Linked DNA regions of Homo sapiens: region 2 is linked to region 1. Evidence: fine-mapped expression QTL. A gene starts in region 1. The other region holds a variant in brackets. All regions are shown on one strand. Distances are from middle to middle.

Region 1 (16,231 bases):
GTCCCAGCTACTCAGGAGGCTGAGACAGGAGAATTGCTTGAACCCGGGAGGTGGAGGTTGCAGTGAGCCAAGATCACGCCACTGCACTCTAGCCTGGGCAACAGAACAAGACTCTGTCTCAAAAAAAAAAAAAAAAAAAGGAAAATAAAATAATAAAGATTAGAGCAGAAATAAATGAAACTGAAACAAAGAAAACAATACAAATGTGTTCAACAAAATGATTTTTTTTGTTTGTTTGTTTTTTGTTTGTTTTTTTTGAAATGGGGTCTTGCTCTTATCACCCAGGCTGGAGTGCAATGGCAGGATCTCTGTTCACTGCAACCTCTGCCTCCTGGGTTCAAGCAATTCTCCTGCCTCAGCCTCCCAAGTAGCTGGGATTACAGGCACCCACCACCATGCCCGGCTAATTTTTGTATTTTTAATACAGACGGGGCTTTGCCATGTTGGTCAGGCTGGTCTCGAACTCCTGACCTCGTGATCTGTCCACCTCGGCCTCCCAAAGTGCTGGGATTACAGGCGTGAGCCACCACGCCCGGCCGAGAAATTGGTTTTTTGAAAAGTAAACAAAATAAAAAATCCTTTAGCCAGACTAAGAAAGATAAACCAAATAAAATAGAAGTGAGAAAGAAGACTTTACAGCCAATACTGCAGAAATTCAAAGGATCATTAGAGGCTACTATGATCAACTGTATGCCAAAAATTGGAAATTATAGAAAAAATGGACAAATTCCTAGACACATATAACTTACCAAGATGAATTATGAGGAAATCCAAAACCTGAACTGACAAATAGCAAGCAATGAGATTGAGGCTGTAATAAAAATTTTCCCAGCAAAGAAAAGCCTGGGACCCAATGGCTTCACTACTGAATTTTACCAAACATTTAAAGAACTAACCCCAATCCTACTCGAACTATTCCCAAAAATAAGAGGAGGAGAAAATACTTCTAAATTCATCATACAAGGTTGGTATTACCCTGATACTAAAATAATTTTTTTTCTATTTCCATTTCAATAAGAAATAAGAAAAAGTAAAACAAAGACATATTTGAACCTAATATATTCTTCAGTGATATCATTCCTTTACTGTAAGGAATACTTTTTTTTTCTTTTTTCTTTTTTTTTGAGATGGAGTCTTGCTCTGTCACCAGGCTGGAGTGCAGTGGTGCGATCTCGGCTCACTGCACCCTCCTCCGCCCAGGTTCAAGTGATTTCCCCTGCCTCAGCCTCCCAAGTAGCTGGGACTACAGGAGTGCGCCACCACGCCTGGCTAATTTTTTTGTATTTTAGTGGATACTGGGTTTCACCATGTTGACTAGGATGGTCTCGATGGCCTGACCCCGTGATCCGCCCGCCTCGGGCTCCCAAAGTGCTGGTATTACAGGCGTGAGCCACCACGCCTGGCCGGAGTACTTGTTTTTCAATACCACAGGAGCTATGAGCTGGTCCTCCATTTTGTATCAAAGAATGTGTCCCCAGGTGACAAGATGCAGATTCCAAGACATTGAATCAATATGATGCCACCATCGCTTTCTTTCTGTTCTATGACATCTTTCTAGTCTTACCTTACTATTTCCTTGGCTCTCAGTTGGTTTTTCCTGAGTTCTCAGAAATTGAAATAATACACACTTTGTAGAAATAAGAATTTCATGTTAGTCAAGTCTCTAGGATAGCCATGGGCTCCACTTAATTATCTCAGAACTTACAGCCCCATGTCCTCTGCTCACTATCCATTGAGATTTATGTGTTCTCAGACTTCACAGAAACTTTTCTAGCTACTTATGTCATTCTCAGTGGTAACTTCATTTATCCACAATATTAACTAATTTTCTCAGTCCAAGCTGTTTTCCAGAGGTAATCTCCAGTCCCCATGCCGAAACTATCATTGTACTTACTGCTGAAATGATAGTTCCTTCCCAGCAAGAAGGTGAGATTATTGTACCCAGAATCTTTTCTCAGGGTTCAAATATCCACTTTCCCCATGGCAGGAATGCTGACACTCCAGCCACGGTTTTGTAAATGTGAATTAGTAAATACCAACTATTCCCAGGTGAGTGTTGTGGGCAGCAAGCTACCCAGGTGCTGAGGCAAGAGACCGAGGGCATGAGCCATTCCAGTATAATAAAATATATAAAACAACAAGAGTTATACTAGATCTAGATCATAGATGTAATTATATATGAATATCATTAATCATTAGTTTGTAGCAATTACTCTTTATTCCAGTATTATAATAATACTCGCTCTATAATCATAACCTAGAAAAAACCAGGCCATACAGAGATAGGAGCTGAGGGGACACAGTGAGAAGTGACCAGAAGACAAGAGTGCGAGCCTTCTGTTATGTCCAGACAGGGCCACCAGAGGGCTCCTTGGTCTAGCGGTGATGCCAGCATCTGGGAAGTCTGGTCTAGCGGTAGCCTTAGTGTCAAGGAAAAACAACCGCTACTTAGCGGACCGGGAAAGGGAGTCTCCCTTTTCCCCGGGGGGAGTTTAGAGAAGACTCTGCTCCTCCGTCTCTTGTGGAGGGCCTGACATCAGTCAGGCCCACCCGCAGTTATCCGGAGGCCTAACCATCTCCCTGTGATGCTGTGCTTCAGTGGTCACGCTCCTAGTCCACCTTCATGTTCCATCCTGTACACCTGGCTCTGCCTTCTAGATAACAGTAGCAAAATTAGTGAAAGTACTAAAAGTCTCTGATATGCAGAAATAATGGTGTAAGCTGTCTCTCTCTCTCCCTCTCTCTCTCTGCCTTGGCTGCCAGGCAGAGAAGGGCCCCGCGTCCAGTGGACACATGACCCACATGACCTTACCTATCATTGGAGATGACTCACACTCTTTGCCCTGCCTCTTTTGCTTTGTATCCAATAAATAACAGTGCAGCTAGACATTCAGGGCCACTACCAGTCTCCGCGCATTGGTGGTAGTGGTCCCCCGGGCCCAGCTGCCTTTTCTCTTATCTCTTTGTCTTGTGTCTTTATTTCTACACTCTCTCGTCACCGCACACAGGGAGAGACCCACCGACCCTGTGGGGCTGGTCCCTACAGAGTGTTACAATCAGAAGGAACCAGTTCTGCTCTGAGGTTGAGACATACTCTGAGGGACCTGGAGACATGGTGCAACCTCCTCTCCTTGCCTTATGCCTCTCCTCTATATTTCCTCTGAAACCTTCTTTGAATATTCTTCCTTCCATTACTGACTGAAAATATTAAGCCTCACAAAGTCCACTGTAAGATCTTTACCAGTGGGAAATGAAGAAGACTGTTTAAAGTATTTGAGTGGCCATTTAGTGTCTTTATAACATTTTTTGGTTATGCATTTTTGTCTTTTTGGGGGCATGATTTGCAAATTGAGTCTCTGGTATTTTACTAACTTGTGTTTGATGAGTGAAAGAGTTAATACTTCCTCTCCCATTAGTGAAAGGAAAGACACTTCAGAAACATGAATAAAAGATTGTAAATTGGAAATAGTAAGGTAATCAGATATGTAAAGAATCTAGGCCAGGCGTGGTGGCTCACGCCTGTAATCCCAGCATGTCAAGTGATTCTCCTGCCTCCACCTCTCTAGTAGCTGGAATTACAGGCACCTGCCACTACGCCCAGTGAATTTTTGTATTTTTAGTAGAGACAAGGTTTCACCATGTTGGTCATGCTGGTCTAGAACTCCTGACCTCTGGTGATCCACCCACCTCGGCCTCCCAAAGTGCTGAGATTACAGGCATGAGCCACAGCGCCCAGCTTCCTGACATCGCTTAATGCATAATCTCTTCACAGGGTATTTCCAAAGTCCAAGGGCTCTTTCATAACACCTACAACTGGTTCCATCAGAAATGTTTAAAGCATAACAAAATATGTTATCATCGTCCATTTTTTCTATTGTCTCAAAAATATCTTTGTTCTTTAAGCAGCTTCATTGCAATGAAATTCCCAAATGTGGGCGTGGTGGCTCACGCCTGTGGTCCCAGCACTTTGGGAGGCTGAGGCGGGTGGATCATCTGAGGTTGGGATTTTGAGACCAGCCTGGCCAACATGGTGAAACTCTGTCTCTACTAAATACAAAAATTAAAAAAAAAAAAGAAAGAAATTCCCAAATTTATCCCCATGACTTTTAGTAGTTCTGTCTCATATATCTCTATTAATCTACAGGTATGACTTTCCTTTTTAAAATTCCTTTTTTGTGCGGGGTGTGGGACAGGGTCTTACTCTGTCACCCAGGCTGGAGTGCTGTGACACAATTACAGCTAACTGCAGCCTGGACCTCCCTGGGCTAGGTGATCCTCCCACCTCTGCCTCCCAAGTAGCTGGGACTACAGGCAAGCACCACCATGCCTGGCTAAGCTTTTATTTTTTATTTTTTGTAGAGACTGGGTTTCACAATGTTGCCCAGGCTGGTCTCAGACTCCTGGGCTCAAGCAATCCACCTGCTTTGGCCTCCCAAAGTGCTGGGATTACATACATAACCACAATGCCTGGCCTTAAATTTTATTTTATTTTTTTATTTTTTTTGAGACGGAGTCTCTCTCTGTCACCCAGGCTGGAGTGCAATGGTGCAATCTTGGCTCACTGCAACCTCCGCCTCTCAGGTTTAAGCAGTTCTCTGCCACAGCCTCCCAAGTAGCTGGGATTACAGGCGCCCACCACCACGCCCGGCTAATTTTTGTATTTTTAGTAGAGACGGGGTTTCACCATCTTGGCCAGGCTGGTCTTGAACTCCTGACCTCATGATCCACCCGTCTTGGCCTCCAAAAGTGCTGGGATTAGAGGCGTGAGCCACCGCGCCTGGCCAAAATTTTATTTATTTCTTGAAATTGTGTAATTTTTGTATTAGAATTTATTATACTCTAATTTTTTGTGCATATCTCTGATATGATTTAAGTTGTTTACACATGTATAAGCCATAAGCAAACTAGATATTCTTGAAATGGGTGATTCAGGGGTAGTCCCACATAAGTGTGTGATTATGACACAGCCAGAAACACACAGTTGGATTACATTCTCCCAGCATGCTGTGGTACAGTCTGGAAGCAAAAATTTCAAAGAGTGTATGCTCCTGGTGTGTGACAAGTGCCTGAGGGTTATACTGCAGCACAGCCTATAGACAAAACACATATCCCAGGGACCCTGTGTGACAGGTGTGCAGTATTTAAAGACCTCAGTCCGGCAGGGCACGGTGGCTCACGCCTGTAATCCCAACGCTTTGGGAGGCCGAGGTGGGTGGATCACGAGGTCAAGAGTTTGAGACCAGCCTGGCCAACATGGAGAAATCCTGTCTTTACTAAAAATACAAAAATTAGCCATGGGTTGCGCTCACCTGTAGTCCGAGCTATGCGGGAGGCTGATACAGGAGAGTTGCTTGAACCAGGGAGGCGGAGGTTGCAGTGAGCCAAGATCATGCCACCACAGTCCAGTCTGGGGAAAAGAGTGACCCTGTCTCAAAAAAAAAAAAAAAAATCTCAGTCCATCCTAGAGGTGCCCCTGTTATACCTATAGGACTCTGTGTAAGAGGCATTGGGTACTGGCACCTATTGACAGCCTGAGCCGACATAAATATATACCACACTGACAACAAACCCAAGAGGGAGAGATGTGATCCACACAACCAGCATATTCAGAACCCCAAGGGGCTGTTAGACAGAATGGAGGTGGGGTCATACTGGCCACACAGAAGCACAAATGCTACTCAGAGACTTGGGCTTTTAAATTTGCTGATTACAAAGGTTTAGTGGGAGCATAAGCAGGGTATAATCAAGAAAATTTTACTCCACAATAGATAGAAATATACCTTCCAGTGTGTGTAGTCATAATATAATTGGAACACACAATTTTAAACTTCTAGACATTACTGTAGAGTCCTATGTTGATTAAGAATCATCACAGATATTTCTAGAAAGAAGAAAGCAAAATATTACTGATAGTGAAGATGAAATATGCCTATATAACTTGCTGTCATGCAAGGTAACATTTAGGTATTGAGATTCTTTACATCCCTGATTACATTGCCATTTGTAATTTATAATCTTTTATTTACATTTCTAAAGCATCTTGCTTTTATGTGCCTATATATCATGCTGTCATACAAGATAACATTTAGAGGCCAGGCATGGTGGCTCATGCCTGTAATCCCAGAACATTGGGAGGCTGAGGCAGGTGGATCACCTGAGATCAGGAGTTTGAGACCAGCCTGACCAACATGGAGAAGCCCTGTCTCTACTAAAAATACAAAGTTAGCCAGCTACTAGGGAGGCTGAGGCAGGAGAATCACTTGAATCCAGGAGGCAGAGGTTGCAGTGAGCTGACATGGTGCTATTGCACTCCAGCCTGACAACAAGAGCAAGAAACTCCGTCTCAAAAATAACAAAAATGAGAGATATCAGGATTATAAGTAAAACAGCATAGTAATACACTTAAGAATAGATAATCGGTCAGATGTGGTGGCTCATGCCTGTAATCCCTGCACTTTGGAGAGCCGAGGTGGATGGATCACCTGAGGTTGGGAGTTGGAGACCAGCCTGACCCTTTTTTTTTTCTAGTAGAGACAGGAGAAACCCTATCTCTACTAAAAAAAAAAAAAAAAAAAAAAAAACACACACAACCAAATTAGCCGGGCGTGGTGGCACATGCCTATAATTCCATCTACTCGGGAGGCTGAGGCAGGAGAATTGCTTGAACCTGGGAGGCAGAGGTTGTGTTGAGCCAGGATTGTGCCATAGCACTTCACGCTGGGCAGCAAGAGCAAAACTCCGTCTCAAAGAAAAAAAAAAAAAAAAAATTAGCCGGGCGTAATGGCACTGTAATCCCAGCTGCTTGGGAGGCTGAGCCCTGAGAATTGCTTGAACCCAGGAGGTGGAGGTTGCAGTAAGCTGAGATTGCCTCACTGCACTCCAGCCTGGGCGACACAGCAAGACTCTGTCTCAAAAAAAAAAAAAAAAAAGCCGGGCGCAGTGGCTCACGCCTGTAATCCCAGCACTTTGGGAGGCCGAGGCGGGCAGATCATGAGGTCAGGAGATCGAAACCATCTCGGCTAACACAGTGAAACCCCATCTCTACTAAAAATACAAAAACTTAGCCGGGTGTGGTGGCGGGCGCCTGTAGTCCCAGCTACTCGGGAGGCTGAGGAGAATGGCATGAACCCGGGAGGCTGAGCTTGCAGTGAGCGAAGATCACGCCACTTCCTCCAGCCTGGGTCACAGAGCGAGATTCCGTCTCAAAAAAAAAAAAAAAAAAACAAACCACCATGCAATGATAAATAATAATGGATCATTGAGGAAGAATTCATGGGACTTCATTACATAGTCCTTTGTATTTGTGTATATATTTGGAAAAATCCATTACAAAAGGTACAATATGTTCTTGCATCAATAACTTTATACAGGCATACTTTGGAGATAGAACAGGTCAATTTTTTTTTTTTTTTTTTGAGATGGAGTCTCACTGTGTTGCCCAGGCTGGAGTGCAGTGGCGCGATCTCGGCTCACTGCAACCTCCACCTCCCGGGTTCAAGTAATTCTTCTGCCTCAGCCTCCTGAGTAGCTAGGATTACAGGTGCCCCCACCCCCGCCACCATGCCCAGGTAATTTTTGTATTTTTAGTACGGACGGGGTTTCACCATGTTGGCCAGGCTAGTCTCAAACTCCTGACCTTGTGATCTGCCTGGCTTGGCCTCCCAAAGTGCTGGGATTACAGGCATGAGCCACCGCGCCCGGCCGACAGGCTTCTTTATCCCATAAATATCTCTAAATCCCATCATCAAAGAGGCAGATTTGAGAACTGTTCTCCCACCTCTGCACTTGGCAGCCTTGTAAATACATGCTTTCTCTGCTGCAAGACTCATCATCTCAGTGATTGGCATACTGTGAGATGGACAGAACAGGCCTGGTTCTATATCAATAGTGTGGAGGAATTGTTTCATTTTATAGACCAGTATCGTCAGCTTCCTCAGGAACCTTTACTAACATGGATAGTGAGAATAACTAACTTAGGGGAAACATCTTTGGTTTTAAATAATGCAGAGTGGAAGAACATGTTTGGGTTGATGTAGTACCTACAGGTCACTCTTCAACAATTGCAGATAGGTATGTATCATCCACACACACAAGAGTTTATTCCTGAAGGAACAGCCAGCCTGGGTGGGTGTATAAAAGCTACTCTGAAGTCTGTCTACTCGGAAAAGCGGGACTGTCTGACTCCCCCTATAAATGCCAAGTGGGGCTCCCCAGATGAACCAGCTTAATATGCTTCCCATGCAAGCCATGTGGAACTGGCATTATGATGATAGGAATATTTACCTACTGAATATGTTTATTACCCAGGTCATGGTAAATGTCTTGGTTTGGGGAACCCCATTTTCTTGGGCACCTTATGTAAACTTACTGCTGCAAAATTGAGCTATAGTCAGTCTTACCAAATTTGCTTCCTATTATGGGCCTTTCAGATGCTAATAAAACCATTAGATTAATTAATAAGATAGACAATGATGAAAGGTACAGGGGAGAGTCAAACAGCTCCTTCCAGGAAGGTAGAAATTTTTAAATAGTTATAAAGAAATAAGACAAATAAAGAAAACATGGATAGGAATGAAACTAAGAGGAAAAAGAAAAGGGGGAAATCATGATACTCATCCCAGCATGGTGGAAATCTTTAGATGGCTATTAGATGGAAATTAGATGAATAAAATAAAAACTGATCGGATTAAAACAAAATTCTGAATATAACACTATTGAAGGTTGGGTGGACCAAAGGAAGTTCCTGTTGATCCCCCAACATTAAAGGGCCTTAAGCTAAGTTGCTGTAGTTCCTGAAGTTTGGATAAATTTTAAAAGCCAGAAGGTAAAGATATAATGAGAAACCCCACCTGGAATGCCTAGGGTGATGGTTAGACTGGTTAATCAAGGTAGCACTTGGAAAAAAGGCCAAAGTCTCCTGGCCTGAACCCTGGGTGGAAACCTGAAGACATCTGCACAAGAAAGGGTAAAATGGTCTGGAGAGAAGAGTCCTGGGACTACAACATAAAGTAAAAGTTGACAGGACTATGAAAGTTGGAATGTTAAACATGCTTTTTTTTTTTTAAGTTGTACTACCAATAAACTGAGTTCTTTCCCTACTTTGTATTGGTCACAAAAAAAAGAACACCCAATTTGGGAAAAAAAAAAAAAAAGGCAAGCAAGTTTTATTTCTGAGCAGAAATGGAGAATGAGTAAGCTCTTGCTCTAAATGCCTCTTCTCCCTGAACATAGAAGACATAGGTTTTTTAAGAACTGAGCGGCTGGGTACAGTGGCTCATGCCTTTAATCCCAGCACTTTGGGAGGCCGAGACAGGTGGATCACCTGAGGTTGAGAGTTCGAGACCAGCCTGACCAACATGGAGAAACCCCGTCTCTACTAAAAATACAAAATTAGCCAGGTATGGTGGCTCATGCCTGTAATCCCATCCATAACATTAATTTATTAGGCAAAACACTCCTTGCCATGGAAACAGAAATAAAGAATAGTCACAAAAAAAAAAAAAGAAAAGAAATAAATAAAGTCTGTTTTATCTAATACAAAAAAAAAAAAATAGCCACTTCCCAGCAATAACATGAACTCCTGGATTTAAGACACAACCAATATCAACAGGTGGAGAGCATCTTCTGCATACGTGCCCCACCTTTGAAAACTGCAGCCATTTATCACTACCAAAATAGCATTTCTTTCATTGGTCTTCCTGTAAGATTGATAAATCTTAGATAAATTAATCCAGAATTAATTGAATATAAGTTGGAATCTCAAGCGAGGGATACTAAGTGGATAAAAGTGTTGCTCAATGTACTGGACACTATGATTGATTTTATAGGCAGGAGAGTTGTCTTCTGTGGGAATCACAGACAGAGATTCAGCATGTATTCCTGCTTTAGGGAACACAACATTTCTCCTCTATCTTCCTTGTCTTGTCCTATCTGGATTAGTTCTCTCTTGTCCCTGACAGACTGAGAAACTGACTCTAATGCCTCAGAGTGCATTCATGTGAATTTATAACACAATAATGTTTATCAGCCTCTGCTGCCAGTACCGGGATTTTGCGACTGAAAGACTGTTCAAAACGTTATGATAATTTGGATTTTTAGTCTTTGGGGGCATCCTAAATAATAAGTTTAGCATCGGAGAGCTCGAGTTCCCCAAAATCTAAAATAATATTTTTTCAAATACTTGAGTGATCAGTTACAGACACTAATCTCCAAAAATCTCAATACGGGTTCTAAGGCTAGGTGAGACTATCCTCTACCCTAGAAGGACATGCACTTTAAGGACAGGCCGCTGAGATGGAGCTGGGCCTTTCCTGCAAGTAAGTGAACGTGATGGTAGGGTATACCTGACAGCATAGTTTGACAGGGGATATAGACTTTCAAGGAGAAAATAGACATGAAATAGATACATGCAGAAGTATAGTCAAATTGAGGGAAGATGACACTTAGGCCAGAGTAGTGTTTATTCACCACTCTGTGCAATCAAGCGCCTCTGAGAAGGCCTTCTTTACCGCCTTGGAACTGTCTTGGAACCTGAGGAAACTACATAACCCAGAAATCTCTGCGTCGAATGACAGCGCGTCAGAGCCAATGAGGGCTCAAAATAAAGGCGTTTCCGCGGAAACAGTATAAAGGTGGGACTTCCGGCGTCCTCTACTAGTGGCCATTTTGATTGGTGTTGGGTGTATTTTCCAGTGAGAGACCGCGGAGTGTTGGGTCGTGTAGAAGTGACTGAACCCAGAAGGTGGAGACGAGACGTTGTCCCGACTGCACAGAGGCTGCTCTGCAGCTCCTTAAAGGCGCTAGGCGTGACCCGCACCAAGGCCGGGATCGGGACCACCGTGCCCGGGTACCTGCACTGCTCGCCCCCTCCTTTCGACCCCGCTTTCCCCACCCAGTCGGATGGCGGCGGCCGCGCTGAGGCCCCCGGCTCAGGTAATTGTGGCGTCTTCCGTGCCCTCAGGTCACCTCATCTTTACCTAAGTCCAAAAGCAGAGAGGAAGCGGCGCCTGCTCAAGGTTTTACACCCTGAACCCGGCGTCGGGACACTGAGGCGCTCTCTATGGGCCCCCGTTTTTGACACCCGCGGGATGCGCTCAGGAGAGCTACAGGCACAGGGAGCGGTGCAGGCAAAGGCCTGGAGATGAACTGAGCCGAGAGGATCGTAACCTAGGGTCCACAGGCACCTGTCGGGAGCAAAGTGTGAGGCAGAGCTCCTCCTGGAAGAGCAGGCTGAGGACCGTGTATTCACCCTGAGAACGCTGGAAGCCATGGACAGCTTCCAACAAAGGAAGGAAAAGATCAATGTCCAGGCTTTAAAGGTTTCCCAAAGTCCAGTCGAAAAAGAACACAGGGGATGACTTTTGGGCCCTGGGAGGTTGAATTCTTGTTCAACCTCTACAGATCAGATAGGTGCTAAGAGATGACATTTTGTACTGAGGCGCTCAGTTCAGACAACCAACTCGCGTTTACCTAGTTACAGGGCCAAGAAAGAGTTCAGGGAGGCCTGAGCTTATCAAATCTCATCAGGGATACATTCTTGTAGCTTGTGCCTCTCCTCTCAGGAACTCCTGGCTGCAGAAGCACTTGCAGAACCTCCGCAGGGAAGCGGAGGGTGTTATTCCCTCACTGGCCCTAACTCCTATCCACATGCTCTTTAGATTGGGATGTCCTGGGATTCTTAGGTACCTTTTTTTTTTTTTTTTTAAGTTTTTTGATATGGGAACCCTGGAGGAACCTTAAACCCAGGATCCAAAGTCTGTGACACAGGATATATGGAGGTATTCCCATTTCTGTCAACCAGTATAAACATACTTGGAAGGTTAACCCAGGAGTTAGTACCAGGATGTGAAATGCTTAGAGGTGAAACTGACCAGAGGGAGGAGGTGATGTTGCCACAGTTTCATCTGGCTGTAGTCTCCTCTGGCTGTACAGTGGAGAACAGACTGTGGGGTTGAGAGAGGAGGAAATAAGATGAGAGTTGAGGCTTTTGCCGTAATCCAAGTGAGGGTTAACAGACTAAGATTCATGGCTAAGGAGATGTGGCTGGATTCAAAGTTGATATTTTGTTACAGCATCTAGGTTTCCTAATACACAAAGTAAGGGCATGAAGAGAGCAATCAGGATCCCGAGGTTTTTGGTCTTAGTAGCTGTAGCTATGGAAGCTGCATCAGCTGAGATGAGCATGTTGGTAATAAACATAATTAGAATATTATGCAAATATCAGGATGACTGTTATGGCCATATGAAGAGTCAGAGACGAATAAGTGTAGGCATCAAATGGCTATGGACATGCAGGTTGGGGTATCTGGAAAGGGATTGACACTGGAGACATCTAATATATGGTAGCTAATGTGTATGCTATGGTGAGTGAGCCATGGGTCACATTAAGGAGAACACACTTCAGATTCTGGTGGTAAATCTTTTAGGGGACCAGAAAGCAGTGGTTGAATGATGAGGACTGCATCTGTTGCTTGGGTCCCTGGGTAATGTTACTGGGCTTCCTAAACACTGGAGAGGTAGGTAAGTGACCATGATGGTAGGGTATACCTGTCAGCATAATTTGACAGGGGACATAGACTTTCAAGGAGAGAATAGACATGAAATAGATATATGCAGAAGTGTAGTCAAATTGAGGGAAGATGACACTTAGGCCAGAGTGGTACTTATTCACCACTCTGTGCAATCAAGATTTGAGATGACTTTGGTAGTGTGTGGGGGGTTTCATTACACGTGCTGAATATGCTCAGGGAGAAATATGGTCATCTGTGACAGTAGGTCTTGGGCCTTAAATGGATTAAAAACAGGACTTTTTTTTTTTTTGAGACGGTGTCTCACTCTGTCGCCCAGGCTGGTGTACTGGTGTATAGTGGCGCAATCTTGGCTCATTACAACCTCCACCTCCCAGGTTCAAGTGATTCTCCTGCCTCAGCCTCCCGGTAGCTGAGAATACAGTTGCGTGCCACCACGCCCCACTAATTTTTTTTTGTATTTTTAGTAGAGATGTGATTTCACCATATTGGCCAGGCTGGTCTCGAACTCCTGACCTCATGATCCACCTGCCTCAGCCTCCCAAAGTGCTAGGATTACAGGTGTGAACCACCATGCCCATCCAGGACTGCTCTTTAAATGGCAATGGTATTAGGTGAATGGAAGTTGGTCCGTGTTGCTGAAGGGTAAGCCATTGTAGCACAGAAGTGGAATAAGACCATGGATATCTGAAGTTACATGTGGTTTTGCATGGATGTGGAGTAATGCAAGGAGGCATTCATAGAATTATTAGGGACTACCACTGCTAATGGGAACCATGGTCATTTTGTGTTATTATTGGATCCTGTTTGAATATGTGAAGCATATTGGATGCTGTCAGCCATATTGTGGTATAAAGCCAAAAATGGAGGCCCAATATGATGTGTCACCTTGACATCTAGTGATATTGGTATGACCTCAAATGACCTGAGAACCAATTCCCTTCCCACTAGGCTCTTTTAGATAATAATCAGCATGGCCTAATAATCCTTTTATTAGGGAGACCAGGCAGAATTCCTGGTTATTATACTTTGTAGTGAGTTTCAATTTTATCCTTACCCACAGTGTTATTCAAACAAGCCAGTTGCATCCTCCTAAGGGATTCGGGGGTCATCACACCCTCTTCATTTTAAAAGCTTGCATATCATAGTTTCTGGTTATGCACTCTTATCCATAGTGCAACCCCTATGTGGTCCTTCATGATGAGGGATGTCCTCTTCTAGACTTTGAGTGTATTTGATTTTTAAACATATTTATAGCACCTGTCTAGTGTTTGATGTCATGTGTTTGGTCATTAATATAACTGTAAGGTGAAAATCTCACCCTTACTGGTAGAAGGAAGAAGAGGGTATAAACATACTTTAACTTGTGGGGAGGCAGAGGCCAATGTGGGAGGCAGTTTAGTGGGGGTGGCCATGGGCATGTGTCTGTGCAGTCTAAAGAATGATGTGTATTTTGGCCTAGCACAGTGGCTCATGCCTGTAATCCCAGCACATTGGGAGGCTGAGGTGGGTGAATCACTTGAGCTCAGGATTTCGAGACTAACCTGGGCAACATAGTGAAACCTTCTCTCTACCAAAAATACAAAAAAAAAAAAAAATTAGCCGGCACGGTGGCATGCACCTGTATCCCATCTACTCGGGAGGCTAAGGCCAGAGAATTACTCGAGCCCAGTAGACAGAGGTTGCAGAGAGCTGAGATTATGTCATTGCACTCCAGCCTGGGCAACAGGAGTGAAACCCTATCTCAAAAAAAAAAAAAGCAAAAAAAAGGAATGATGTGTATTTAGAGAAGGAGTATGTCTGATAGACTGAGGATGCTGCATTGGGATTTACATGACTTCATCTCTACCAGGGGCATTGGCTATCAGGAAGTTATGGACCGCTTTATATCAGCACCAAAACATAGAAATCTATTGTTTCACCCACTTCTTGTGGCTGATGGCTGTACACCATGACCAGTGAGCCCATGAGAAGATAGTGACACCAGTGGGCCTAGTTTCTCCTTGTAGTTTAGGACCTTGGGAGGAGGAAGGGCAAGGGTGGATAAGTGGATGAGCATATGGAGTGTTTGTGGTTTCATCTGTCATCATCACGGCAGGGCACTGTGACCTTTGAAGATGTGGCTGTGAACTTTTCCCAGGAGGAATGGAGTCTCCTTAGTGAGGCTCAGAGATGCCTTTATCATGACGTGATGCTGGAGAACCTGACACTTATATCTTCTCTAGGTAAGGCACTCACACTCTTCTCTATGACCTCAGCTATTGTCTGTCTGTCCCCATCTTTTTTCCCCATGGCAAGACTGTTTTCCTCACTTCAGGAGCCTGGGCACAGGTTCCTCTGTTAGTTCCCTGGGTAGGTTCTATGTGGTATGTAGGACTGAGGTGTGTGCACTGCCCTCTCTCTCCTTGAGCAGCCCCAACACCTGCTTTGCTGCAAGCTCCCAGAGAAGGAGCTTTACAGGCACCATAATGCATCCCACCTTGCTTGCCCTCTGGCTGTTGAGTAATTTTTCTAGATCAGAGACTGGTATGCACAGGTTCTACTTCCTTGCTCTAGGTGACATTTATTCATGACTGCCTGTGCTAGGAATTCCTCCCATCACTGATGTTCTCAATACTTACATGCACCATAGGTTGTTCTTGCAAGACCCTCCTTATAAATTATCTTGTTTGTTTTGTTTTGTTCTGTTTTGTTTTCAAAGTCTTAACTCTGTCACCCAGGCTGGAGTGCAGTGCTGCAGTCATAGCTCACTGTAGCCTCAATCTCCCAGGCTCAAGCAATCCTCCTTCCTCAGCCTCTAGAGTAACTCGGACTAGAGGCTTCTGCCATCACATCCCACTAATTTTTATTTTTATTTTTAATAGAGATGAGGTCTGGCTGTATTGCCCAGGCTGGTCTCTGACTCCCAACCTCACGTGATCCTCCCACCTCATCCTCCCAAAGTGCTGGGATTACAAGCATGAGCCAGTGTGCCCTGAGTATTTTTTGCTTTTTTGTTTTTTTTTTTTTCAGACAGGGTTTCACTGTCATCCAGGCTGCAGTCTACTGATGCAATCATGGTTCACTTCATTCTCAGCCTTCTGGGCTCAAGTAATCCTCCCACCTGACTCCTAAGTAGCTGGGACTACAGGAGCATGCCACCCTGCCCAACTAATTTTTGTTCATTTGTATTTTTGGTTTTGTTTTTTTTTTTTTTTTTTTTTTGAGACGGAGTCTTGCTCTGCCACCAGGCTGGAGTGCAGTGGCCCAATCTCGGCTCACTGCAACCTCCGCTTCCCAGGTTCACACCATTCTCCTGCCTCAGCCTCCCGAGTAGCTGGGACCACAGGCACATGCTGCCACACCTGGCTAATTTTTTTGTATTTTTAGTAGAGACGGGGTTTCACCGTGTTAGCCAGGATGGTCTCGATCTCCTGACCTTGTGATCCACCCGCCTCGGGCTCCCGGAGCTGGGATTACAGGCGTGAGCCACCGTGCCCGGCCTCATTTGTTTGTTTTGTAGAGATGGTGTCTCATTATGTTACCCAGGTTGGTCTTGAACTCCTAGGGTCAAGTAGTCCTTCCAGTTTGGCCTCCCACAGTGCTGGGATTATAGGTGTGAGCCACTGCACCTGGCCAAAAATTATCTTTGTAGTATTTAGTTTTCTTTCCTATGGGCTATCATGTGCTGATTTTTTCTGAACTGTTGGTTGGCTATTCTTCTC
Region 2 (15,957 bases), 45 kb before region 1:
TTCTTCCAGCCCTTTTCAATTTATCCTTTGCAACATATAAATTACTGATAGAAGGACATATTCTGCCTTTTGTAGGGGCTATTTACAAATGTCCATCAATGGAAGACATCATTATAAAACCTGATGAACCCTTTCCCAGTCTTCTATCATTTATCTTTTTTTATTTTTATTTTTATTTTTTTTTGAGACAGGGTCTCGTTCTGTTATCCAGGCTGGAGTGTAGTGGTGGATTTATCATTTTGTCATTCTCTTTTTTTTTTTTCAGCATAAACTATCAAGCAATTCATGGTTGTTCTTGTTTCATCTGTCCCCATGTGGATTTATAATCAGATATTTCGTTAAAGGCATAAAGTCTTCAGATTGCATTTCTAAAATTTAAAGACCGTTTCGTAACTATAAGATTAACATACAAAATAAAAATTGTATGTGTACAAAATTATAAATGTTTTATATACAGTACTGAATTGTATCAACTGCTGCTTATTTAAGACAGATTGCTATCAGCATACAAAATATATTTGATGTTTAGTAGGTGTGTCTTTGAGTTTATTAACCTATACGTACTGCTTACTTCTTTAATATTTATGTAACGTTGCTAAACTGCTTGTCCATTAGCTTCCCACATTGTGCTGGGCGCAGTGGCTCATGCCTGTAATCCCAGCACTTTGGGAGGCCGAGGCGGACGGATCACGAGGTCAGGAGATCGAGACCACGGTGAAACCCCGTCTCTACTAAAAATACAAAAAATTAGCCGGGCATGGTGGCGGGCGCCTGTAGTCCCAGCTACTGGGAAGGCTGAGGCAGGAGAATGGCGTGAACCTGAGAGGCGGAGCTTGCAGTGAGCCGAGATCGTGCCATTGCACTGCAGCCTGGGTGACAGAGCGAGACTCCGTCTCAAAAAAAAAAAACAAAACGAACTTCCCACATTGTTGATTTGGCTTATTAAATCTCAGATTCTGTTCAGTGTGTTCACCGCTCACTCCGCCCCCCATTCCCCAGTATTTCCTGTATACTAGATATTGATGAAATGAGTGATTAAGATCTGTTCCAAGTGGACAGGTTTATGTTGGTGACAAACCTGGAAACACAGTGTGCCTTTTGCTACCACAACATGAGCAGCCTGGAAATAAACATTACAGGTATTGTGTGTGCTGGTTGTGAGACAGGTGTGCAGTAGTGACAGCACATCCTAGCAAGATACACATACATCTGTGGCATACATTGACAGATGTAGGAAACTGACACCCCCCAGCACAGCCTGGAGCCATTTGTGTATGCCACATCCGCAACAGAAAAGATGTATGACAAACCTGAAACACACACACAGGTATGTGCAAAACACGCAAGGATCCTGTGAGACGGGATGGAGATACTGACACACCATAGCAGTCTCCACAGAGACTTGTGGGACGGACATATGCTAGGGATACCCAAAAATCTGATATGTGGGGCCAGGCGCGGGGCTCACGCCTGTAGTCCCAGCACACTGGGAGGCCGAGGCGGACAGATCACAAGGTCAGGAGTTTGAGACCAGCCTGGCCAACATGGTGAAACCCCGTCTCTACTAAAAATAGAAAAATTAGCCAAGTGTGGTGGTGCGCACCTGTAATCCCAGCTACTCAGGAAGCTGAGGCAGGAGAATCACTTGAACCTGGGAGGCGGAGGCTACAATGATCCGAGATCACGCCACTGCACCCCAGCCTGGGCAACAGAGCAAGGCTCCGTCTCAAAAAAAAAAAAAATCTGATGTGTGGGCCACAAACACAATTGCACTATCTTTGTGGGGCAATTGTGATGAGGCAGGCACAACCTGATGTGATACTACTACTCCCTACACACATCACTGCATACTAGATGATGTACTGATGAGGGAACTGGTTCATACCCCAGCACAACCTGGAAATACACGTGTGAGCAGGTTTGACCTAAGCAGGAGAATAGGATGTTTATGGGCTTTATAGGAGGGCTCAGCCAGATTCAGCCAGTTTCAGAAGTAATTGGTCAAGTACAGGTGGGAGAAGGAACACTCTAGGGGATTAGTACTCATTGTCTGTCATTGATTTTACACAGGGCTGGGGAGGAGCAGTTGGGACTAAGGACACCTGCTACAGGGGTTGGGAGGCAAAAGCCATGGGTACAGAGACGCGCGATGGTCACGCTGGACATTCTCAGTTCTTCATCTTCTCTCCCAATGTCTGCAGTAGTGACTGATAACTGAGTGACAGTTCAGTATGGTGTGGAGGAAGCATCCTATGGTGGTGTTTAGATGGAAGACCGAAAGGACCCCAGGAATGAATCATTGCATGGGGTTGTGAGAGAGCGATGTGTTTGGAGTGACACCAGGGACCCTGTTGGAGGTGTTCAGGCAGTGGCAATGCTGACCATGGGAAGCAAGTTTGTGGAGAAGGACTTGAGGCCCCAGGTGGCAGTGTCCCAGTGTGGTTACTCATGTTCTGGGCTTAGCAGACTTGGCAGAGAGGAATCTGTCCAGAGTCTCCTGCATTTCCAGTCAGAGGAGTAAAGGGACCAAGGCAAGCCAACCCAGTTCAGCGTAGACCTCAGCTGCTTGTGTGAGAAACACACTCACCCATCCAAACCCAAAGAATGGACTAAAAGACACGAAGAACAGCGAAAGTGAGACTTTCAGTAACAGTCTTGCAAGATCAGGGGACTGGTGTAGGCAGGCATATCTAGGGTAGTCACAACAGGTAATTTATCTCCTTGCTTGCAAGTCCCTCCTCCAAGATACTCATTGGTCCAGTACTATGAGGTTACAGTCTTCCCAGATGTCGTCTAAGTTTCATTATCCCCCTTATAACGTTAAACCCCGGTCCCCTTCCCTGCTTAAGTTTTGATTTCCAATAATGAAACATTCTTCCCTTTCATGGCCTGACCCCTCCTCTACATTCTGTGTACCTATTGTGACCTTCTAGATGCATGAGCTGTGTGGTTTGTTACATTTGCAGGCTGGCTGCCAGTACTTAGATTTATCATGCCTTGAAAATGGGCTATTTAAAATATTTTCCCACCCTTGGCAGCTGTGGTCGTGTATGGATGTTGCTTGCCCTCTCTGAACTGCAGATACATTAAGAGACAGGAATGATCATTCCTCTCTACTCTTTTTGGGGGGAAGAAGGAATAAGTAAGGAGGTAATCCTTAGGAAGTGGGTCAATATTAGCTCCACATGAAAACAGTAGTCTTGGCCAGGCGCGGTGACTCACGCCTGTAATCCCAGCACTTTGGGAGGCCGAGGTGGGTAGATCACCTGAGGTTGGGAGTTCAAGACCAGCCTGACCAACATGGTGAAACCCCATCTCTACTAAAACTACAAAAATTAGCTGGGCGTGGTGGTGCACGCCTGTAATCTCAGCTACTCTGGAGGCTGAGGCAGGAGAATTGCTTAAACCCGGGAGGCGGAGGTTGCAGTGAGCCGAAATTGTGCCATTGCACTCCAGCCTGGGTGACAGAGGGAGACTCCATCTCAAAAAAAAAAAAGAAAAAGAAAAAGAAAGAAAAGAAAGTAGTAGTCTTGATTGTCAGCATCCAGGGAAATGTGCAAACCATTCTCGTCTCAGCCTCCTGAGCAGTTGGCACTACAGGCGAACACCACGATGCCTGGCTAATTTTTGTATTTTTAGTTGAGACAGGGTTTCGCCATGTTGGCCAGGCTGGTCTGAAACTTCAGGCCTCAAGTGATCTACCCTCCTTGGCCTCCCAAAGTGCTGAGATTACAGATGTGAGCCACTGTGCCCAGCCGGAATTCCTTTTTTTTTTTTTTTTTTCCTTTTGGAGACGGAGTTTCTTGTTGCCCAGGCTGGAGTGCAGTGGCACTATCTCAGCTCACTGCAACCTCCACCTCCCAGGTTCAAGCAATTCTCCTGCCTCAGCCTCCTGAGTAGCTGGGATCACAGGCATGTGCCACCACACCTGACTAATTTTGTATTTTAGTAGAGATGGGGTTTCTCCATGTTGTTCAGGCTGGTCTCAAAACTCCTGACCTCAGGTGATCCGCCTGCCTTGGCTTCCCAAAGTGCTGGGATTACAGGCGTTAGCCACCGAGCCCAGCCTCTTTTTCCCTTCGTTTTATTCTAATCAACCACTGAGGTTCAAAGAGGGTCTCTAGTCACTAACCCAGCCCCGCCCCAGCCCACTCAGCCCCTGTCCCTGGTGTGAGCCACCGCGCCGCCCAGCTGGAATTCTTCAGAGTAGAAAAAAGGGAAGGCTTTAGGTGTGCTAATTGGAGTCTGTGGGTCTGAGGAAGCCGAAGGCAGGCTAACTACAAGTAGGGCCTACTCTGTCATTGGTTAGGGACACATACTTGATTTCATCCATTTGTTCTTAAATTGGAAAGGGAGACAAACATTAGAGAAGCTGTTAGTCAAGTCCTTGACAGGGGTTGTTGGGGACTTTCTCAAGGTCACTTCCTTGGGAAGGAGTCCTTCAGAAATTCACACTGAGATCTCTGGACTCTGCAGCCAGTGCTTCTTCCAAAAATTCCATCCAAGTAGAAGCTGTGGGGTCAGGGGGTTCTAAGAAGCCCCATTTCTCTTTCTCTTGTACCTTAAGACCTGCCTGGATCAGGTAAATGATAAGGCATCAACTCACTAGGTGCTGGGGATAGTGCTCGGCCCTGCTTACCACCTGCCTACCACACCTTTTGCCAGGATCCCAGAGAGTACTGTGAGCACTCCTATTCCACAAACATAAAACTGAGGTACCAAGAGGCTGCAAAACCAGCAGAGTCCTGATGCTGGGCAGTGGCAGAGGAGGGATTAAACCCAGGCAGCAGAGGGAGCAGAGGGCCTGGGGCAGCCAGGCACCGGAAGTGCTGCAAGCACCAAGACCCAGGGTGGTAACTTGCAGGGGGAGGCCAGAGCATGAAGGCAGAGGGAGGTTTTGGGTGCAGCCTCCAAGTAGGGAATGGACAGTTTCAGTGTTGAGGCAGAGTGGCAAAGACAAGAGACCCACAGCACCCAGGAAATCCCTCAGCTATAAATACAGTCCCTCAGCACTTTTCACTCCCCTTCCCAAGGATACTATCATCACCCTCTCCTCACCTTGGAAAGAAATCAGGGCTCCAACTAGAGCTGCCTTGCTGGAAGCTCGCACTGTCCTGTCCCGATGTATCATCCAGCAGCCCCAAGGCAGCTCCCCTCATTATCCTCTGTCATAAAGATATGATGTTTGCTTTTCCTCTAGGTAAAGCCAGTAAGGTAATAGAGCATCACCTGTTAGGATGAACTATGTGTGACAAATGGTGCTGTCAAATTCGTATTTGAGGACTTGTTGTTGTTTATCTTGAAAACGTGTGTAATGGGCTACATCTGCTAGGCCATATGAAGGAGTGAGGCTTTTTTCTTACCTTGCAATTTCTTAGTGGATTGTCTGTGATGTGCATCACATTCTGGTTTAATGCTTAATAAAAGCGTTTTCTGTCTCTACCTTCGTGGAGAGGATTTCTGGGTTGGGAGAAGGTTTTGTATTTATTTCACTGTTGCCATCACACACCTGTCTGCTGGGACAAAATCTCAATCACCGATTTCATCAACATCTAGTGTACAAGTTAAACAATGTTAGAGATTCAATAAGCCACATCTAGAATACAGCAAATTCTAATTAAAAAATGACTCAGCAACTTCAAGAAATAAGAAAACAAAGGTAAATGGAACCTGTAGGTTACAGACTTATGAGATACAACTACTGAAAGCTATTAAATATACATTTGGATCCTGAATAAAAATGATCTTCCTTAAGAAACACATTGTTTTAGACAACTGAGAAAACAGAAGCGATAAAATATTTACATTTTAAAATATATTTGTGTGATTTTTTGGGGGGTTATAAAAGAGCCTTTACATTTTAAAATTGCATTCTGAAGAGGCTATGCATTAAATAATATGATATCCGGGAGTATAAGTAAAATAACGCACTAGTACACATGAGGACCGATGAAACATAAATGACTATGAAATGATAAATGGTGAAGGAAAAAAAAATAGTGAAGGAAGACTGGAGAAAGGTTCATCTGGCTTCATAACAGTCTTTTCCATCTTTTTTTGTAATTGAACACAGCTGTAACAGGAGACAAAATATGTCATTGTACCAGTAATTTTACACAATGAAAATTAATTTTATATGTTGAGAATGAACTAAAAAGACAGAAGGAAACTGCGTTCCAGGGTGTAAGCATGTATGAAAATATCAAAATATGCATTTTAAATATAAGCACTTTAAGTTCCATTATACCTCAAACTACTTTAAAAAACTACTCAAAATATCCATAACAAATGAATGAATGAATAAACGAATACTGGTATATCCACAGAACATCATACTTCTCAGCAATACAAAAAAAAGAAACTACTCATAGAGGTATAATGATGAATCTCAAAATAAATACGTGACTATACCCAGGGATTAAAAAAGAGTAAATACATTATGGTTTCAATCATATAAAATTCTAGCAAATGAAAACTAATGTATTATAATGGAAAGTAAATCAATAGTTGCCTATAGGCAGATAATTATTAAAGGACAATGAGGTAACTTGTGGAATGACACGTTCATTGTCATGATTGTGAAGAAACAACTTCTTCCTAATCATTTCACTACATTTTATTTTCTACATTCTTGAGGTTATTCGTGGCCACTGTATCAGTATGGTAGAAACAGAATATATTAGGATGCTATCAGCAACTCTTCCCAATTCTACATTCAGTAACATGTTGGCAGTTTCAAAATTGGCATGGTGGGAGCAATTACAGGTTAATATGAATATCAAAGCTGATCAAATTATATAGTTTAAATATGTACCATTTATTCTTATTAAAATTATTATCAGGTTAGTGCAAAAGTAATTGCCGTTTTTGCATGTTGGATTTTGCCATTTTATATTGGAAAACATTCTTAAATAAATGTGGTTATACATCATTTTAATAGGCATTTCTCGCTTTATGTTTTTTTGCTGACTTACTACTTGCTGTTTATGTTTATTTTAGACTATGGAAATGTTAGACAAAACTCAAATTTCAGCGATTTTTTTGAGATAGAGTCTTGCTCTGTTGCCCAGGCTGGAGTGCAGTGACATGATCTTGGCTCACTGCAACCTCCACCTCCCGGGGTTCAAACAATTCTCGTGCCTCAGGCTCCCCAGTAGCTGGGATTACAGGTGCATGCCACTATGCCCAGCTAATTTTTGTATTTTTAGTAGAGACGGGGTTTCACCATGTTGGCCAGGCTGGTCTCGAACTCGTGACCTGTGATCCACCCACCTCGGCCTCCCAAAGTGCTGGGATTACAGGTGTAAGCCACCGCATCTGGCCTCTTTTTTTTGAGACGGAGTCTTGTTTTGTCTGTCGTCCAGGCTGGAGTGCAGTGGCGTGATCTTGGCTCACTGTGACTTCTGCCTCCCGGGTTCAAGTGATTCTCCTGCCTCAGCCTCCCAAGTAGCTGGGACTACAGGCACATGCCACCACGCCCGGCTAATTTTTGTATTTTTAGTAGAGATGAGGTTTCAATATGTTGGTCAGGCTGGTCTCTAACTCCTGACCTTGTGATCCACCTACTTCAGCCTCCCAAAGTGCTGGGATTACAGGCGTGAGCCACCGCACCCGGCTGAGATTTTCTTACTTGAGTTCCCAATGGGTCGTAAAGCAGCAGAGACAACTCACGATATAAACACATTTGGCCCAGGAACTGCTAACGAATGTACAGTGCAGTGGTGGTTCAAGAAGTTTTGCAAAGGAGACAAGAGCCTTGAAGAGAAGTAGTGGCCAGCCACTGGAAGTTGACAATGACCAATTGAGAGCAATATTAGAAGCTGATCCTCTTACAACTACATGAGAAGTTGCCTAAGAACTCAATGTCAACCATTCCACGGCTGTTCAGCATTTGAAGGAAATTGGAATGGTGAAAAAGCTTGGCTGGGCGCAGTGGCTCATGCCTGTAAATCCCAGCACTTTGGGAGGCCAAGGTGGGTGGATCACATGAAGTCAGGAGTTCAAGACCAGCCTGGCCAACATGGTGAAACCCCATGTCTACTAAAAATGCAAAACTCAGATGGGCGTGGTGGCGGGTGCCTGTAATCCCAGCTACCTGGGAGGCTGAGGCAGAAGAATCGCTTGAACCTGGGAGGCGGAGGTTGCAATGAGCTGAGATAGTGCCATTGCCCTCCAGACTGGGCAACAGAGCAAGACTCTGACTCAAAAAAAAATAAAAATAAAAATAAATCATGGTTCAAAACCACAGTTACTTTTGCACCAACCTAACAAAATATGGTTCAAAATAAAAGTCTGAATTTCCTATTGTTTTTGGAAAATCAGGTTTGACAACCCTATGTTGATTCCACCATCTCTCTCCTCATGTCCTGGGAGAGGATTTTGCCTCAGTGATCACAAATACAAGTGAACAGTGAAGGCCATTTCCACCTGACTCAACAGAAATGTTGGCTGGATCACAAAGGCTGTATCAATGGCCTAGACCTCCCTTCTCTATCCTTGTTTTCCTGCCTGCATAGCAATGACCTTGAGGTGAAAATCCCAGAGGCTACAGGATTCCATAAAATTTCTGACAATGACCTCAGCTACACAAGATACACAATTCTGTAGGTCCTGAGGATTTCTGTACCTGCTCATCCTTAAGAGCCATAATAACGAACATCATGGAAACCTCTGTAAAAGGGGCACATTCTATTTATTGCAGTGTTATTGCAGTTTTCCACTCTCTATCAATCCAGTACTTCTATAACAATTATAATTCCTACTATAATCTTACCACCTGTGGTGCTACCCTGTGGAATTCAGGATATCAAGGCATACAGGACCTGGGGAACAGATTTCCCCCACTGGCACTGAACACGATGCAGTATTCCTTGTGAACAAGAGAACAATTTCATGTTGCTTTCAGAA[A/G]CATCAAAGGATGTCAAGTAACTGCTGCCTCCTCAGGCTGACCTCTATGGCATCCAGGATATAAATTAGGACAATACCCTGTAGTTTTTTCTCAGAGGCCTTGAATAGCAATGAAAACTAGGCTCAAACTAGAGAGAGAGCTATATTCTGCCATCCTACTGTCCCTGTCCCTGTCCCTGTTGAGCTACACAATGTTTGGGATCTCCAAAAAAAGTTATTCACCCCTTCATGTTAGCAGAACCCAACTGTTTTCAAACCAACCCATACATATAGAACCCCCAAGATTAATAAGGCCTTTGTTATTGTACAAACCAAGGCAATAAGAGGCAGTTGGTTCCCACAGTTGGTGATTTGAAGGCTGGCAAACTCTATCAAGAGTCATGTGAGACCAACAATATCCTGAAATATGTAGTCCCTCTTTTCAGGTCACCAGCAGAGTCCTCTGGGCCAAACTGGGTCAGGTCCATGGCCTAACTCATCAGAAAGGAAAAAAAAAAAACGGAATAAATGCTTAGGCTATTTACAAATTCCTCCCATGAACAGAACACCAAGGTTCACTTACCTGAATACACTGGGATGGGTGAGTGGTGCACACTGGTGGTCACCTGCCAGGCAGTAGAGGTAAAATGGCTTCCACTATAGTATCAGCAGAGACATAAATCTGACATGGGCCCTGGGCAGGGCAAAAGGTGCAATGCAGTTCACACATACCTGGAATTTATGCAGATGTTCAGATATAGGATGTTCAATTCAGGCTGATGCCACCCTCATAAGGGATCTCCTTCAGAGCTGTTATATCAACTGGACATCCCTACATATCAAAAGTGTCTTTCCCTTGTGAACTGTGTGGCACTCAATGAGATATGGCCTTCAGCTGAAGCTTTCTGACATTCACTGTGTACTCAAGGACTTTCTCCAGGGTGCTAACAGATTTTCCACATTTGCCACTCATAAGGCTTTTATCGACTATGAATTCTCTGATGTTTAATAAGGCTGGAGTTATGGCTAAAGGATTTCCCACATTCCGTGCACTCATAAGGCTTCTCCCCAGTGTGAACCCTCCTGTGCTTAATGAGGCCGGAATTTTGAGTAAAGGATTTCCCACATTCACTGCACTCATAGGGTCTTGATCCAGTGTGAACTCTCTGGTGTTTTCGGAGACTGGAGCTGTAGGGAAAGAACTTCCCACATTCACTGCACTCATAAGGCCTCTCCCCAGTGTGAACTCCCCGATGTTGAAGGAGTGCAGACCTTTGGCTAAAGGATTTCCCACATTCGCTGCACTTATAAGGCCTTTCTCCAGTGTGAACCCTATGGTGTTCAATGAGGCTAGAGTTTTGGCTAAATGACTTCCCACATTCGCTGCACTCATAAGGCCTGGATCCACTGTGAACTTTCTGGTGTTTTATGAGACTGGAATGATATGTAAAAAACTTCCCACATTCACTGCACTCATAAGGCCTCTCCCCAGTGTGAACTCCCCGATGTTGAAGGAGTGCAGACCTTTGGCTAAAGGATTTCCCACATTCACTGCACTCATATGGCCTTTCCCCAGTGTGAACTCTCCGATGTTTAATGAGGTTAGACTTGTTGCTAAATAATTTTCCACATTCATCACATTCATGAGGTCGTACTGCAGTGTGAACTCTCCGGTGCTGAATGAGACTAGAGCTTTGCCTAAAGGACTTCCCACACTCTCGACATTCATAAGGCTTTTCTCCAGTGTGAAGTCTCCAATGGTCATTGAGACTGTAGCTTTTGCTAAAGGATTTCCCACATTCACTGCATATGTAACATCTTTCTGTAGTGAGGGTTCTCTGCTGCTGAACAAGTGTGTGTTTACCGCTGAATGCTTTTGTGTGTTCTCCACAGTTGTAATGAGTTTTTCCTCTGTGACTGATGGCCCCACCGTCGCTTTTGCTATTTGATTGCTCCCCAGTGTGAGCAGCCTGTTGATGGAGAAATCCCAACTTGGCCAGGAAGTCCTTCCCAACTTCTCTGCAGGTGGAAGGCTCCCCTGACACATGGAATGTGCAGGTCTTCACAAACAAGGCTCTGCCCACATTGCTTCTGAAATGTTTTTCTCCAAGGTGCTGCTTCTGATGATGAACATCTGCAATGAAATACAATTATTTCCCACATGCCCCACCTCTATATAATTTCTGCCTATGATGTGTCCCCTAGGGCCCAGCCAAGAGCAAAATGTCTCTCAAGACCAGGCTACACGTCTCACAGTGGTGGGCCTTCTAGGGAGAAAGATCTGCCTTAGAAGTCCTGAGTTGGGTCACTCCTTCTAAAGAAATGCTCTTGTCAGAAGGTGCCTCCTCATCCACCACTCTATGCCAAAAACCTAAAAGCAAGAAATGCTAGTGAAGTGCACATTAACTATGGTGGGAGGGGGCAGCCCTTATACAAGTGTGTGTATGACAAACCCAGGAACAAGTCCATGGGATCGTTTGCATGACAGTAGAGTTGGGTTCAGTTGCAGATGAGGCTGTTTAGCAATTCTAGGATAAAGATTACAAGAATGGGCCGGGTGCGGTGGCTCACATCTGTAATCCCAGCACTTTGGGAGTCCAAGGTGGGTGGATCACAAAGTCAGGAGTTTGAGACCAGCCTGGCCAATATGGTGAAACCCCGTCTCTACTAAAAATACAAAAATTAGCTGGACATGGTGGTGGGTGCCTGTAGTCCCAGGACTCAGGAGGCTGAGGCAGGAGAATCACTTGAACCCGGGAGGCGGAGGTTGCAGCGAGCCAAGATTGCACCACTGTACTCCAGCCTGGGTGACAGAAGGAGACTCCGTCTCAAAAAAAAAAAAAAAAAAAAAAAAGATTACAGGAATGTGGGAGATCTCAAGAGGTAAAGGCCACAACCATGAGGTATCACAAAGAGAGAGGCAGGGTCTAAAACTAAATCCTCTGCAAACAACTTTAGCAGAAGCTTATCTGCTGGCGACACATGAGTGCTATGTAGAATAGTATATGCAAGCCCATGGAAATACGACTGCAATGCAGCAGCTGGCCTTCAAGGACTGTTTAAGAGTATGTGCAAGGACAGGCGCAGTGGCTCACACCTGTAATCCCAGCACTTTGGGAGGCCAAGGTGGGTGGATCACAAGGTCAGGAGTTCAAGACCAGCCTGGTCAAGATGGTGAAACCCCATCTCTAAAAAAATACAAAAATGAGCCAGGTGCAGTGGCATGCGCCTGTAATCACAGCTACTCAGGAGGCTGAGGCAGGAGAATTACTTGAACCTGGGAGGCAGAGGTTGCAGTAAGCCGAGATCATGCCACTGCACTCCAGCCTGGGTGACAGAGTGAGACTCCGTCTCAAAAAAAAAGAGTATGTGCATACCTCATGACACACTATATAGAGGCTAACGTTAGAAAGAACTGCAGGTGTAGCAGTGAGAAAAACAGATAAGATACGGAGTCCAGAGATGTGAGGATTAGCCCCAGGCTGGATGTTAAGAGCAGAAGTGACAAGTAGTAGAGCTGACTTGTCAGCAAAATGTCAAGAATGGTGAAGGGAAACCGGAAGTGAGCTGTGACCACTGGCATTGGCACCAAAATGCTCGCCAAACAGAACAGGTTGCTGCTCTGATACAGCATCTGGATAATGTAAGTACTAAGGGAAGAAAGAACAGAAGAGCAGCCTGCACTGTCCCACAAAAAACTCAGCACATGACAGCCCACAGGAAAAACACACACACACACAAATACTACAAAGAAAATTTCAGAGGAATACTTTGTAAGAAGAGTCCATGGTCTACATAAGTAGTGACCATGTCAGTGACAATAACTCCTGGCATAGGCAGGCATAATGAAATGCCAGCTCGGGATGGAAGTAGTAGCTGGGGCACACAGGATCCTCAAATCTGGAAAAAGTCACCCAGACATGGAGGGGACAATCAAGGTGGGATCCACTAGGGTGACTGCAAGACTGCAGACTCTGAATCCTTCCCTGTGAGGCTGTGAGGAAACAGGTACTGGGGCTCCTCAAGGAGAGGAGAAGACAGTATGCACACCTTAGTCTTACCAATGACAGAACTATGCAGGGAACTGAGAAAGAAGCAGAGCCCATAGTCTTGTCATGAGAAGGACAGACCTGCCTATAGAGAAAAGAGGAAGGGCACAGACTAGCTCAGGGCACAGGAAAGGGTAAAAGAACCTTACCTAGAGAGGTTAAAAGAGCCAAGTTCTCCAGCATCACATCACGGTACAGGCATCTTTGAGCCTCATCAAGGAGACCCCATTCCTCCCAGGAGAAGTGTACGGCCACATCTTCAAAGGTCACAGTGCCCTGCCACAATGGGAACAGATGAAACCACCAAGAGCCCCTATCCCAAGGACCCACAATGCATACCCCCACATCTTTACCCCATGCCCATTCTCTTCCCAAGCTCCCCAACTGAGAGGAGAAACCAGCACATGGATAAATAGGCATCTAAGCTGGGGGCCTGGCATGGAAGGATCCATACTATCCCATCATGAAATCCCCCTGAAATGTCCAAGGTCATCTAAGTCTCAATACCAGGGCCCTGCAGCTGTCACTTACTCCCTTTCCAGATGCACATCATTCTTCAGAATACACATCCCTCCTATCTCCAGACACCACAGCCCCAAGCCCAGGGCTGCCACCTCACTGCCCACACCATAGGCATCTCCCTGCTCTTACCTCCCATGTCACTGTTTTAATCTCTTCCTCTTTACCCCATTAGCGAAGGCAGGATTGCCACACTAGGGTTATGGATATGGACAAACACACAATACCTGACACTAGAAAGACGATACAGCAGTTGGGTATGGTGGCTCATGCCTGTAATCCCAGCACTTTGGGAGGCCAAGACGGGTGGATCACGAGGTCAGGAGTTCAAGACCAGCCTGACCAATATGGCGAAACCCCATCTCTACTAAAAATACAAAAATTAGCCGGGCGTGGTGAAGCACACCTGTAATCCCAGCTACTCAGGAGGCTGAGGCAGGAGAATTGCTTGAACCCAGGAGGCGGAGGTTGCAGTGAGCCAAGATTGCGAAACTGCACTCCAGTCTGGGCGACAGAGCGAGACTCCGTCTCAAAAAAAAAAAAAAAAGAAAGATGATATAGCAGTTTATTAATCATATGTACATAGAACCTGGGAGATGAGGACAACATGTACCACACAGGGTCACATGGGGGTCTAGTCCAGAAAAAAAGTGAATAACCAAAAACTGTGGGATGCAAGCACTTTGAGAACAAAAGGATCAACTGCCCCCTGGTTCCCACAATGGGCTTGTTTGGAAAACTCCATGACCTGGTAGGGAGCTGAAATCTGCTACAAAGTGATAGGCAGAAATTGTGCCTGGTCTCCTTGATTAAAAGGGTTGTCTGTTTGGGAGAAGAGTAGGGAGGGAAACTTGTACTCAGGCCATTTGATGCCACCCTGATTTCACCAGATGTCATACTGGGCCTTAATTTTAGACTTTACACCATAACTTAGCACACAGCGTCCAGAGTATGCTCGACAGATTCAAACGGATCTAATACTACCCTAGATCTCCCAGGGCATCCACTAGTGGTAGCAGCCCCAAATCCTATGAGGGCTCCCTGGCTGGCTCCATTCTTTGCCTCAGATTTAGGCCACACAGAACCACATGTGCATCTCAGATACCCATGGCCCTATTCCACTTCCGTGCTGCACTTGCTAGCCCCTCAGCAGTAACAACCTTCCTCTGTCCACTTAACACTCAAAGACTAGCTCCACTGATCACCTACCCCAGGCCAAGTGACTGTCACAGATGACCACATTGGCACCTGGCCTTATCCTCCAGGTTGAATAAACACCCTAGGCCCCATCAAAGTCATCAAAAAATCCTGGTGATTCCACAGAGTGCTGAATAAGCACAAAGGAAAAAAAGGACAGCCATTTGCCTCAAATACACCTATGCCTCTGCATCCACCTTATATCCACTCTTCCCTTGAAAGTGTATGCCACCTGCCCAACTATCCTCTCCAAACACCCTACCTCCATAGCCACTAACCTCCCTTACCTCTGTTTAGAAAGCCCAAGAATATCACCCACTTATCCAACCAAAAGGCTTGGTCCTTAGCCCCCATTCTGCCCTTCCTGGCCAAATAACCTGTACCACCATGCCTAAAGATTAACCCTTGTAGGCCGGATGCGGTGGCTTACGCCTGTAATCCCAGAACTCTGGGTGGCTGAGGCGGGTGGATCACCTGAGGTTGGGAGTTCAAGACTAGCCTGACCAACATGGAGAAACCCTGTCTCTACTAAATAAATACAAAATTAGCCGGGCGTGGTGGCGCATGCCTGTAATCCCAGCTACTCGGGAGGCTGAGGCAGGAGAATTGCTTGAAGCCGGGAGGCGGAGGTTGTGGTGAGCCAAGCTCGCGCCATTGCACTCTGGCCTGGGCAACAAGAGAGACACTCCATCTCAAAAAAAAAAAAAAAAAATAGAACAACCCTTCTAAATGTAATCCACAGCTCACTCACCTTAGTCCACACAATGACCACCACATTTTGGATGTCTCCATTCTGAAGCACTCCCCAGATTTCCAGACCTGGGTGTTCAGCCACCTACTTAATGCCTACTTAATGTCTCTGAAACATCTCAAACTCTTACATGACCAAATAAAGCTCCTGTTGTCTCCAGTGAATATTACTGTTAATACCAACTTCTCCATCTCAGTTGAAGAACCATGGGGTCATCGCTGAATCCTGTTTCACTCCCTCGCTGTCTACATCAGAAAATTTAGTTGCTCCCTTTAAAAATTTGCATCCAGAATGCAACACATCTCCTAATCAATGACTCTGGTCCATTACCCTGGACTGGCTGTAGCTTCCACTCTGATCTTCTTTCCTCTTCCCTCAACCCCACAGTCTGCTCTCCACGCTAACGGGATGGACCCTGTTAGGACTTTGGTAAGATCACCTCCCTCTTGTAACCCAAATCTCTCATTACCTCCAGAATAGGTACCCAACTTCTCAGGCAGCCACTGCAGTCCTGACTCCTTCCCCCTGCTCTTTGTTCCCAGCTAAAAGGAAACA

Evidence for each region.
Region 2: its variant is fine-mapped to the expression of ZNF776 in thyroid (GTEx, PIP 0.97).

What each region holds. Positions count from the first base shown.
Region 1 is chr19:57,736,160-57,752,390 of GRCh38, forward strand. ZNF776 (zinc finger protein 776) reads left to right here and starts at 10,656. Exons shown (of 3, transcript NM_173632.4): 1 at 10,656-10,932; 2 at 14,626-14,752. The coding sequence starts at 10,900. RefSeq lists an enhancer at 10,668-10,717.
Region 2 is chr19:57,691,769-57,707,725 of GRCh38, forward strand. ZNF154 (zinc finger protein 154) reads right to left here. Exons shown (of 3, transcript NM_001085384.3): 2 at 13,085-13,211; 3 at 4,507-11,020. The coding sequence ends at 9,867. Among named protein-coding and RNA genes, the nearest start is that of ZNF154, 9.5 kb to the right of the region's middle. The variant A/G (reference allele first, on the strand shown) is at 8,908.